Regions from separate parts of the Homo sapiens genome. Here regions 1 and 3 are each linked to region 2. The links come from fine-mapping of genetic effects on gene expression. A gene starts in region 2. Each other region holds a variant in brackets. All regions are shown on one strand. Distances are from middle to middle.

What was found. PIP is the estimated chance that this variant, and not a neighbour inherited with it, causes the effect.
Region 1: its variant is fine-mapped to the expression of CLOCK in whole blood (INTERVAL, PIP 0.98).
Region 3: its variant is fine-mapped to the expression of CLOCK in monocytes (TOPMed, PIP 0.95).

The regions. Positions count from the first base shown.
Region 1 is chr4:55,337,313-55,341,553 of GRCh38, reverse strand. No RefSeq gene overlaps it. Among named protein-coding and RNA genes, the nearest start is that of SRD5A3, 6.8 kb to the left of the region's middle. The variant A/G (reference allele first, on the strand shown) is at 2,597.
Region 2 is chr4:55,544,503-55,548,743 of GRCh38, reverse strand. It overlaps CLOCK (clock circadian regulator), which reads left to right and starts at 1,835. Exons shown (of 23, transcript NM_004898.4): 1 at 1,835-1,962. LOC124900704 (a long non-coding RNA gene) reads right to left here and starts at 2,879. Exons shown (of 2, transcript XR_007058122.1): 1 at 2,134-2,879; 2 at 855-1,128. RefSeq lists silencers at 1,560-1,929, 1,990-2,089, 2,210-2,839.
Region 3 is chr4:55,430,294-55,434,489 of GRCh38, reverse strand. It overlaps CLOCK (clock circadian regulator), which reads left to right. Exons shown (of 23, transcript NM_004898.4): 23 at 1-4,196. It also overlaps a transcript of TMEM165 not described here. Among named protein-coding and RNA genes, the nearest start is that of TMEM165, 36 kb to the right of the region's middle. The variant C/T (reference allele first, on the strand shown) is at 2,357.

The sequences.
Region 1 (4,241 bases), 210 kb after region 2:
GATTCTTATGATAATGGCGCTTGCTTGACTCGGGTGTGCTGTGTCCATCCCCGTTCTGCTGTAGGAACAGCAGTCTTGGTGGGTAGCAGCACAAGGCAGGGTCCTTCCCAGGCTGGCTTGAGTTTCCCTTCTTTCTACCCTTTGATGGGAACGTGATCCCCAGGGTGGTGCTGGTGTACTGGAAACTCCAAGGGCGGCGCCTGTGCTAAAAGACCTTTTGTTTTAAGGGAAGAGAAGGTGGAAGAGAAACCAAGTATATAATTTCCAAGAAATTGATTTTTTGTTTTAAATGTGGGGATATCAGCAGTGGATTTTACAGTCCTTAGTGTCTTCTTGCTGAGAAATTTCCGTTAGCACCTATTTTTATTAGTTTTTAGGCCAAAGAAAGCCAAACACCATTTTATATTTGACAATGCTTCCTGCATGATTTTATACCAGATAAGCTGAATTTTACCTTTATATTAGTGTGTTATTAATGTTAAACTTAATTTTAATAAAACTTTATGGACATATTTATCCAATTTTAATGTCTGACCATAAGGTAAGATTTTTATAGACTCTTTTTAACCTTTTAAATTGTTGTTAAAGAGCAGGTTAGTGCTTTAAGAAAAACCTGTTGTGCTTTTATTTTAATGTCCAGTTCACAGAAAAACTGGATGATACCCCTTTAACTTTAGCCAATGTTTACACACAGAATTCCCCTTACAATTAATGTTTCAAAACTTGCTTAAACCTTTAAAACAAATTTTTTTCTCTCTCTCTAAGATGATAACCATTCTTTTCTAAAGCAAACTTTCTTCATGTCTGTGGACTAGACTGCCTAAGGCCACAAGATTAGAAGTTAGGATAATACATGTGACACTTAACTTTTAGGAAACTTTACTTTTGTTGAAAACCTTGTAAGTTTGGGATTTCAATTATCCTTTGTGATTAATAAGACCTCATTTAGTCCAAATTTAACTTAGAATTGATATAGATGACTCCTTCCTGATTCTGTAAGTATTTTAAGGCTTGGCTGAGTGCAAACAACTCACCAACTATTAGGCAATTTTCCTAACTCTACTTCTACAGGAGTTTCCCTATTACTTACTGAATACCCATTGTCTTTTTCCCTCAATCACCCGGGAGGAAACATCTATTGTCCTGTCCTGAAGGGAGTTCCTTCTAGGTCTGGTCGGACCTTTGTACAGTAATTAATTAAGATTTAGATCCCTGCTCTCCCCCGCCTTAGAAAACCTGCTGGGTTAAGGGAATTATCAGTGGTTAATGTTAAATCATCTTTTTCTAAGAGACTAGCCCCATACTTTAAGGTTCTTGAGTCAATAAGCTCCCTTTTTGCTTTTTTTTTTTTTTTTTTTTTTTTTTTGACTTAGGATAGTTCTGACCTGGTGAGGTGTGCTCATAATGAGGTTTCCTCTAAAAGTTATTTTTCTACTTTCTTCTGTTAGCAAAGCAGTTGCCGCTACAGACTGAATGCATTTGGGCCATCCGCGGGTTACTGTGTTAAGGATTTTTGATTAGGGTATTTCTAAGGCTACGCCCTTGTTTACACTGACAACAAGGTGGAATGGCTGCTTAAGGAGGGTAAAGCTGGGACAGCAGCTGCTTTTACGTGTTTTTGGTCCTTTCCTTATCCTTCTAATATTTTAACATACACCCTAAAGGACTACCAGAAGGAATCTGATCACCTTCACCTCTCCCTGAGTCAGCTTTACTCCTTGTCCTCATTTTACTAGAAACGTTTCCCATGTTGCTTACTGGTAAGGTTCAGTCTCCTGAAATTAGCGGAAAGCTCAACCCCTCAAACCAGGGATGTCTTGCCTTGCCTGTCCTGGAAGGTGCAACCCCTCAAACCAGGGGGTGCTTTGCCTGCCCCAGAAGGCTCAACCCCTCAAACCAGGGATGTATGTCTTGCCTTGCCTGCCCTGGGAGGTTGACCTGTTTCCTCCCTTTCCTTCTCTGAAGGTCCCTTGCACACTTCCCACTCTGGCCGCTTCCCCGAGGGAGAATTAGGCCCCTCTTAGTGTTGGCATGCCGGTATAAATCCCAACGCAGGATCCGCCCTAAGCCATATGAGGTAGCTAGGGGACCGCGGAGAGGACCCACTAACTCCGTCCAGCAGCAGGACTTGTCACCATCCACACAAACAACACTGCAAACAGGGTTGTCTGTGATCATTCACACACATACACATTCAGCCCTCCGGAATTTCACCATCAAGGAAGTACTTTATCGACTCCCGTGGCTTCTCCTTCGTTGGTCTGTGCACAGAGTCGTCGCCATGGTAGATGAGGATCCTTTACCCCAGGTTAGTGGCCAGTTTCTTTCCGTGTTGCTGAGAGTCCAGATTTATTCATCACACCGGGTGGGTCTCAGCCCCTTACCCCTAAGGCCACCACAAGAGGCGGCATGGCGCCTCATGAGAGAGGACTAGAGATGCCCCGGAGGAGAATGTATACCCGTACAATTGCTACCAAAATTGTTAGAAATACCAAAATTGTTAGAAATAGATCATTGGTGCCACAAAGAAAAGTCATCACAGTGACAAAAGATCTCTCAGCAAGGCCATCTTTACTTTCTGCAGAAAGGGTGCTCA[A/G]TTGCAGATGGAACAATGGCGAGAGCATCCTTGAACAAAGGAAAAGCAGACATATTTATCCCTTAACGCATTTGAGTCATCCTTACTGCTGTGTCCTGCATCCATTGACTGGAGTGGGACCTCACAATCTTAAACTGATACCCAGTTTACTAATAACCTGCAACTTTCCTAAATAGTTAAGTGCAGAGAAGAACAACAAGAAGTTGCTTACGAAAGGTTTAAGGAAGCAATAACATTTCCAAATAAGGAAGGGGCATACGCTGTGAGCTGGAATGTGTCTGTGATGACGTCCAACAGTTACATAGGATAGGGCTTAACAAAGTTATTAGCACAAAGCAAGGAGGCTTGAAGAAAGTCTTTAAAATAAACTATTATTTCTAACACTTGTGATTTATTCTTTAACAAGAAGGAAAACTTTGAAGAGGAAACTTTTTGCTTTCTACGTAAGACTTCTTCAAATAAAATAATAAAATGTTACTGATATTAAAGAAAATGTGTTTAACAGAAGAGGTATATTAATCCTACAAATTAGAAGACTCCATATAGTTAAGATGACAATTCTTCCTAAACTGATTTTTGTAATAAATATAATCCCAATCAAACCCCAATCTTTTGAGGAACTTAAGCTGATTTTAAACTTTATATGAAAATAAGAAGGGCTCATGGTGGCCAAGGCACTCTTGAAGGTGAAGAAAAATGTTAGATGTCTTACTCTATGAGACATCAAGGCTAATACAGAGTGTTACTATGTGTAATTATGTCAGTGTGGTAAAGGAAGCAGGAACAGACAAATAAACAATGGAACATAATGGAGAGTCCAGAAAAAGACACCCACATGTGTCAACCCTGGATGTAAGTTTGAGGTTGCATGATGTGTCAGTGGGGAAAGGATGAAGTTTACAATAAATGAGGCTAGGACAAATCAGCAAACTCTGAGAGACAGAGATGAAGACAGAGATGAAAGAGATAGAGATAGAAAGAAATGAGACCCCTTCCTTACTCCATTTATCAAAATAATTCTAGGTGGGCTAAAGACCTATGTAACAGGTAAAATGAAATCTTTTAGAAGGTAATATAGGAGACTATTTTCTGCTTTTTTTTTTTTTTTGAGACAGAGTTTTGCTCTTGTCATCCAGGCTGGAGTGCAGTGGCTCGGTCTCGGCTCACTGCAAACTCCGCTTCCCGGGTTCAAGAGATTCTCCTGCCTCAGCCTCCCCAGTAGCTGCGATTACAGGCGTCGGCCCCATGCCCAGCTAATTTTTGTATCTTTGGTAGAGACGGGGTTTCACCATGTTGGCCAGGCTGGTCTCGAACTCCTGACATCAGATGAACCACCTGCCTCAGCCTCCCAAAGTTCTGGGATTACAGGTGTGAGCCACTGCACCTGGCCTAGGAGACTATTTTCATGGCTTCATGGTAAGGAAGGTGTTCTTATTCAATATATGAAAAGCAACTAGAGGAAAATATCCAAACATTCTGCAACATTAAAATTAAAATCCTCTCTTCATCAAAAGATACCATAGAAGGCCAGGCGCAGTGGCTCATTCCTGTAATCCCACCACTTTGGGGAGGCTGAGGCTAGTGGATGGCTCGAGCCCAGGAGTTTGAGGCTGCAGTTAGCTATGATTTTTTTTTGAAACAGAGT
Region 2 (4,241 bases):
TTGATCTTGGTGACTGAGAGGACAATGAAATCATTAAAAAGGGCAAAGGTATTTTGAAGATAATATGTTCTAGATGATGGGGAATATAAGGAGGGATCAGTGTCTCTAGAATAAAATTCAAAAATCCATCCTAGGGAAAGCATTCAAGCCCTCTCTTGTCTGGCTGCAACCTACCTTATCAGTATTAATAACTTTGCCTCCGTCTTGCTACCTACCTCTTGTCAGTCGGGACTCTTGATTACATGTGAAAGAAAACCTCTCACTGGTTTAAGCAATAAAACAGATGCAAGAATTTACTGACTGGTTTAACGAAATTTCCAGAGGAATCTAATCTACATTTGTTTCCAGGCCTCAAACATGTCTTTAGGCCAAACCTGTCTTCAAATCTGCTTTTTTTCCGTGTTGCCTTCTTTCTCAGAATTCACGTGTGGAAAGATGGCTCCAGGTCTCCATTCTCCCAGATTTAAACCCATTGGTAAAGACGTAACACCCTTCTTAGGAACCGTAGTTTGCAACCGAGGATTAAACTCAAATATGCCTTCCCCTTGTGTCCTGCTCAGACCATATGGACTGAGAGTGGATAAATGATAGTTCTTCAAAAGAAATTATCAGAATAGGGAATGAATGCTGAACAGGCAAAAATGTCGACCAAAATATCTTCTGCTATATGATGGGGTAAATTAACAAATCATGTTTTCCCACTCCTGAAAGAAAAATCCTTAGGTGCAGGATCAAGGATCTGAATAAGTGCTTCAGTTTGATGTTCTTTTGCCCAGAGCATACAGCAAGAATTGAAAATGTTTACTGAGGTGACTGTTACTTTAAAGGGAGGATTTTACGGCCAGAAAAGTGCATTTTTTGAAAGAAAAAGATGGCTTTTATTTCAAATCCAAAAGATATTCATTAAAACATAGGAATTACTAGGAATTAAGACTGTAAAGATCTCTTTTCCAGTAGAAGCACTGAAATGTGCTTTCTCATGTGGACCAAATGTGCCTTAACGCATCAAGATAAGTAATTTCCCGAAGATAAGTAGTAGTCACACGTTGTTCCAACGAGGAAATCCATGCAAATTAGGGTCCTGGTTTATTTCTGATGCTTCATTCTCCATCTTCCATTACACTGTCACTTGATTTTTAATAAAAGGGCAAGGGAAAAATCTCCAAATGAGCAAATAAATCCCGACCTCCTTTCGCTTCCCTCCTCTGGCCGAGGGCGCATGCCCTGTCTCCCCAGGCCCACCCACCAAGAAGAAGCAACCCAAGCCGCGCTCCCTCAGGAGATGGGAGAAGATGTTACTGGCGGTCCAGGCGCCTTTGCAACTCTTCTCTCCCAGCACCAGGAGAGGAAACACGAATGATGCCACTGGGGGAAAAAGTCTCCTGCCAACACCCGAAAAATCTAAGCTGGCGTCGGCAGTGTTTTGCTTTGGAAGGGAGAGCGGGTTCCTTTTCTGGCCTCTGGATCCCTCATCCGGCAGGAAGCTCTTCTTCCTCCTCCTAGCCCCCGGCATACGGGGGGAAAGCCAAAGAGCCTCCAGGACCTAAGGCTAGCGCTCTGCCGGCCGGCCGCGCCCTCCACCCGACCAGGCCCCGCCTCCCCGGCTTTCTAGTAACCGGCGCCGTTCCCGGCCGGGGCAGGGAACGGTGCGCCTGCAGAGCCAGATTTCGGCCCAAGGGGCGCGGGAGTCTCTTCGGGCGTCCGGGATCCCCTGGCGCGGCTCCGTGCTGCCTAACGGGGCAAGTCGCATGCGCACCGAGCCGCGCTGGGGAAAGGGAGAGTGAGGGGAGGGGCGAGCGCAGAGCCTCCGCCGGCCGTCTGAGCCCGCGGGGTCGCTGACGACGCATGCGCCGGGAGGGGGCGCAATCACGGACTCGGCTTGCGGCTGCCGGTTTAAAAAAGGAAACCCCGGAGAGCGAGAGCGCGAAGGAAATCTGGCCGCCGCCGCCGCGAGCGCTCCCGGTGAGAGGCGCCCGCCCGGTGGGCCCAGGGCCTGCCGAGTGCCGGTTGGCTTCCTTGGCGGCGCATGCGCGCTCCTGGGCTGGTGGAGGAGGGGAAGGGAAGGGAGGGGGAGGAGGAGCTGGCCACAGGAGCGGCGAATTTTTGGGGGGGTGGGTGGGGGGCGCCACTCACAGCCCCAGGTGCTGCTGGAGGTGGGAGCCGCGGCGCCTCCTGGACACAGGCGGGGTAGTGGTTCCGAGTCACCGCAGCGGGAGACCTGGGTGGGGGAGGGAAGAAGCCGGAGCCGCCGCAAGCCACACGGTGAGGGCGCGGGGAAGGGGAGGGAGCGGGGGGCGGCGTGTGTGGGGCCGGGGGGCGGCGGCCAAGGGTGGGGAAGGCGGGAGCTGAAGCCCAAGTTTGGCGTGTCGTTCTAGTGTGTCTTTTCCCGGGACTTCGGGCCGAGGCCCGCCCTGCCTGAGAGGCCCTCTGGGGCAGCTGGGGTTACCTGCGGGGCAGGGGCGGGAGTGGGGTGCACGGCGGGGCCGGGCGGCTTGAGGGCGCCCGGAGCTGCGGCCGATTCCAGCAGCTGGGAGGCGGGGAAAGACGGGGACCGGGTGCCGAGAGAGCTTTCGCTGGGGACCCGCTAGGCCTTGTGACCCACTTTATTCCTGTCACCACTCGGGCACGTTTGGAGCAGCGCCCAATGGGGCGCCGGGGCGGCCAGCTCCTCCGGGGAACCCCCGCCCTCCCGGCGCCCGGCCCGCGTGCCGCAGTCCGCAGTCCGAACGGCCGCCGTTGCCGGCCGCGGGCTGGTTCCGTTAGTGGTGGTGGTTCCGGGGTTCCGTTCCTAGGCAGCGCGCGGCTATTAGCGTCTGACTCCAGCGACCGCGCGCGGGTTCGAGGGTTGGCGGCGAGGCGCTCGGTTTCTCTTCTTCCGTCCACCCGCGCTTCCCGTTCCCCGTCACCGCCGCTGGCGTTTGTAGATTTCTTTCCGCCAGTGAAGCTGGGTTTTCTGGAGTTGGCTCTGGCGCTCTGGCCCCTGGAGTGTAATTTCCTACACGCAGCGCCGCAGAGTTTATATTCTTTGAAAGTGTTTGTAGCTTTGTAGAGGTCCTCTTGTTGATGGTAGGTGAGCCTAATTCTGCAAGATAAAAGCCTAGTCTCTGACCTGGCAGATGAAAGATCAAATCAGATTGTGGTTTCCTGCTATTAGAATGCCGTGCTATTAGACTTTAAGGCTTTTTAGCCTTCTTTAAAAAATAAAAAAATTTTTACAGTGGAAGAAAAGCACAAGAAGTAAACTTTTACAGTCGTTGATTTGACTATAACGCTGATCCCCCCAAATCAAAGGTAATTTCACTTTGAAGATTGCGTTCTGATTTGTAGCTTTAAGCGATTAGAGAAAATTGTGCAATATTCCCCTCTACCTGTTTGAAAATAAACATTCTTAAAAGGATGTAATTTAGATAATGAATTGCTTTCTCTGAAACTTATCCCTTGGGACACCTCAAATCTGATTGGTTTTCAAAGCTTGGGGGAAGGAAATTAATTCCTGTGATAAGTGGTTGGCTGAACAGAATGTCTTGAAAGGTTAGCCTGTAGCATTAGGAGAAATACCTAATGTAAACGACGAGTTAATGGGTGCAGCACACCAGCGTGGCACATTTATACATATGTGACAAACCTGCACGTTGTGCACATGTACCCTAGAACTTAAAGTATAATAATAAAAAAAGTAAAAAAAAAAAAAGTTAGCCTGAAGAAAGCAGACTGAAAATGTTCTAAAGCTAGGCGTAATCAGTTATGAAAAAAGAATAAGGAAGCTTTCTACGTACTAACATGCAAAGATTGCAAAAATTTGCTATGAAGTGAAAAAAGCAAGGTGTAGCGGTACTTTGTGAATAGTGTGTTACATCTTAAGGGCGAGGTGTAATAATACAAGTTTATGTTTGCTCTTTATATAAAGAAATTATGGGAGGATTTAGAAAACTAACAATAGAGGAGAGGGAGAAATAGTCTGAGGGAATGGTGGGAAATGAGATGTATTATGTGTATGTCTTCATGTTTTCAAATTTTTGTGTGTATTATGGACTCATAAACTGGATTAAACAAAAATCCTCCTCCCCCAAATAATTTGTGTGATTTTTGTTGCCTAATTTATGGTGATTTGAGTCATTTTCAATATGATTGCTTTTCATATTTTTTAGGAAAATCAACTAAAAAGGAAGTTTGGGATACCTTTTATGACTATTTACACTTTAATTTTTAAGATTGCAGAGGTCACAGGCATTTATCTTTTA
Region 3 (4,196 bases), 110 kb after region 2:
TTTAGGTGGCTGGGAGTTTTGATTGCATATTTTGTTATAGTTCATAGTTGGAAATATTTGCGTAAATGGTTTTCAACAAGCCTGAAAGTAATTTCAAGAATGTTTCAGTTATAGAGGTAAAATTTGCACACAAAACATCTTAGGCACTTTTTAACATTCTCAATCATGGGAATTTTAACTTTTGGGATTTGTTGAAATCTTTTTTATTATCCTTCACAATTTCAATGCTTCTTTTAGTCAGAAATGATTCAGGGTTATTTGAGGGGAAAAAACCCCATAGTGCCTTGATTTTAATTCAGGTGATAACTCACCATCTTGAAGTCATTGTCCGGTTTCCGTAGCAGTTTTGAAACCTTAGTACCTTTTTAACAGCATGTGGGTGTCAGTGTCATTATTAGTCTCCTAATAAGTTCCTCTGAAGACTGCTATCAGTCTCTTGGACTGGAGGTACAAATAATTTAGAAATAAAAGATGATAACCTAACACTATCATAGTTATTAATGTGATCCTAAAATTGTTTCCTAAATCAGCATTTTTCTTTAGTCATTTAAGAATTTACCAGAAATATTTGCTCAATATGATCTTGATATTCCTACAAAGAAAAAAGAAGGGGTAGGGATTTGGCTATGCCTTCACTACAACATTAGAATATTGTAACTCACATGCCTTCTAAACGTGAACTAAGATTTCCTTTGGCAATATCATATTCTAAAAGTAATAAATTCCAATACAAGTTACATACATTTAAAAAACATTTTACAGATTTTATGGTACTAATGAAATTTACAGTGATAGAACAAAAGAGGATTAGTAGAAAATACATTATTAGAATATAAAAAATGTTATTACTGAGGAAAGGGAGGAGAGGACAAGTGTAATAAATCAAAATTGACCTCAAAAGAAAATGTGTAACAGAGTTGAGGTTGTTAAAACAGAAAAGGTTCTGAATAATGAAGATTAACCTAATGCAGAATTGCTAGGTAAAGAGGTCAGGGGAATGCTAAGCCAGTTCTTAAGACTTCTCTGTCCTCTGCTTTGCTGTTATCCTTAAGGCATATACTTTGTCTTTCTGCAGAAAATTCTACCTGGCTACAATTACTTTGAACATTAATGTTGAAAAAGAAAACAACCAAAGAAAATTGGTACTTACCCTTCTACAAAAGAAGTGTGACTAGATATCAATCAGTAATTAACATATCAAGGAGCTCTTCTAGCTAAATGACCATCCAGTAGAGATTTCCCACATTCCCATGAATATCAAGAATAGTTGTCAGAATATGTATGTACCTGAGCATATGTACACAGACAAGGGGGATGTTGTGGAATATGGCAATAGCATTGTTCTTCTCCCCTTTCAAATTGCCTTTCTTGACCTTATGCCATTCCATATATATCTGAGTTGTGCCTCATTTATTTATTGGCAATACCTAGTGATACGGATTTAGCTAACAAAAGATATGAAGAACTATTATATTGAGGCCTGTCCTCTACATACCACACTTAAAAGATGGTGAACTGTGAGTACTACTTAGGTTGACAGCAACAAAGCATAAGACAAGCCCCAGGTAAACGTCTAAACTGTTTACTCACATTGTCCTACTCCAGCCCCTTCAATTATTTCCCATCTCCACAAATAGTCGGGGGAAAAAATTAAAATTTTCCTTTATGATTCTTACTGTTCTTCGCAGCTCATCTTTTCCTGCTTAGAATTAACCATTGCTAATTTAAAGGAGCAGCTAGCTGCTTTTCTGTCAGTCTGAAGCGTAGTAGTGGAAGAGGTAGTAAGCACCAGCTGCCTCTTTGCTGCTTTGTTTTCCTCCTGATTCTCTTAAATTTGGGTTGCAAAGCTATCCCGCCCCCCACCCTGCCCCATGAAACTTGAGCATTCAAATGAAGATTCAGCAGTGTCTGTTCTTCATTTCTATAGCCAAAGCTGTTAGTTAAAATCCCAAATCTATAGCATTTAAAGATACCAAATAGAAACACCTTCCAGCTTTAAAAAAAAAAAAAAAAAAGTCTTCCCTCTGCTTTATTCTCACTTTCTTAAAAACACTTATTCTGGGTGGTACTTTTTAGGTAAGAAACTACTGAGTTTCAGGAAAAATGCTAGCTACTCTGCAGTTACCGTGCTTTGGACTTGCAGTTATCATAGTTTTGGGAGAGTCAGTATTGTTTAACAAATGCAAGTGAGAACTAGAAGGGTTAATAAAGTTGCTCCTTAGAGTGGTGTCAAACCAGAACCGAGACACTTAAAAAGTACTTCATTTTTTGAATGGAAAATATTGGAGAAAAGTATGGGAGATGCAGGTAGCATGTGAGTAAATACTACGGTCTAGCCTTCGAGCATCCCAAATTC[C/T]GGGGGTAACTTGACAGTGCTGTGCTCTCCTTTGTCATTTATATCTGGCTTAGGAATGGAATAGTAATAACAAGATGCCAGTGATTTGGAATAGTTTGTTATAGAACATTCAGTGCAAAATAGTGAAAATGTTTGGTCTTCAGAAGTGCTGTAGTTGTTGGTCATTGCCTTAAAGCAGTCTGCTTGACGCTAGGAGCACTGAAGCAGTCCAGCTCCATCAAGAGCACTGTTGAAGGGAGAAGAACCCTTGTTCAGGAAGCCTTAGAAAGGGATCCTTAAAATAGTACTCTACGCAGACAAGTGAAAATTCTTTTAAACTGGATATTACTCAACATGTTTTCAGATGTTTCCACTACATTGAGGCAAACTTTTTAAAAGTGGAATGCAAATAGCATTTTACTTTAGTATTTCTGCTTTTTTCTTTCTGTTTCTTTGGTAATTGAAAGTTTGTTGATGAATATTTGTGTAAAACGCATTCAAGTCTATAACCTTTCCAATTACCTGTGGCCCTTAGTCCCACAGGAGTCCCTGTTGGAAGGGGGTAAACACTGGATATTAATGTTGCTGAGTGAGTCTTTCTAGCCAGGACAAGCTGATTGGAATTTTTGAATGGTAGAGAAGAAACAGCACAAAGGCACTTGCCATTTTAAGTGTTTGGAGAAAGAGAACCTTTTAAGTTTGGATTGGGTGAGCTTTCTTCTAAAAGGAGCTTCTGAAGTAATTGCAAAGGAATAGAATCGACTATTTTTATAGTATATTTAATATATTTGTATATAACTATAATAGGAACCCTCTACATGCCTCCCACTTTTCTAATTTACTTCCCCTTTTGCCATAGCACTAGTATAGCCTCATCCGCATGGGTAATGTGCCTATTGTCAGCCTACCAAAAGATAGTGCTGCTGCTTTATGAGACAGGTGAGAAGACCCAACTCTCATGCCTGGGGATCCTTTACGGAAGGAATAGCACACACTTTTAAAACAACATACCACAGTCTAAAAGCATCATTTTGAAATGTAACAAGCACTTTATTGCAATTACTCATTTTGATAAAGTTTATTCTTAGGCGTTAACCATTTCTAAAGGATCCCCAAATCATCACTTACTTAGGTGAAATTATATAAAATGACACATTTCTGAGAAATGTTTAGGTCCAGTGAACCGTAGTTGGTTTATGGGAGTGATTTCAAGATAGCCAAATGAACTTTGATTTTTGTTTTGAATGTGGTGGAGTCAAGAGATTGTAGATGCCTAGTTTGATTTAAACACTATTGTAAACCTATCTTGCCTATTGTGTGGACACCAAAAGAGACCAATGAGCCTGTTTATTTTTCAGAGGTCTAGGAAAATTGCATCCGTGTGAGTAGATGTACAGAACTAATCTAAAAGTGATTGCTAGTAACATTTTAGAATATAATAATTTCAAGAATTATTCTGAGTGTTTTAAATGTGCCCTGAAATGTTGGCATGTCATTTCAGCATTTCCATTTGAATTGCTCTTGTAATATTTTTGCACAAAAAGGACTGAGAAAAAGAATACTTTGGTTAAAGGAAAAAAATAGTATAATTTGGTCTTTAATTTTAATGTCTCCTGTGGAAACACTGGGGATGAATTTTGTTGGCACAGTTATTCAGGATATTTAAAACAGTGTTGAACAGTTCACAAGAAATTAAGCAAACTTGGATTTTAAAAATTAAAATACTTTCTTTCCATGTGACTGTTTTGCATAGTTTTTTCCCCCTATGTCATAACACTACATTCCTTGTTTTTCTTAAATAAAATACTCTGCAGGTTTTGTTGTGAGTGTTTATAACAGTATTTTGTAAGCTGCCTGGGTT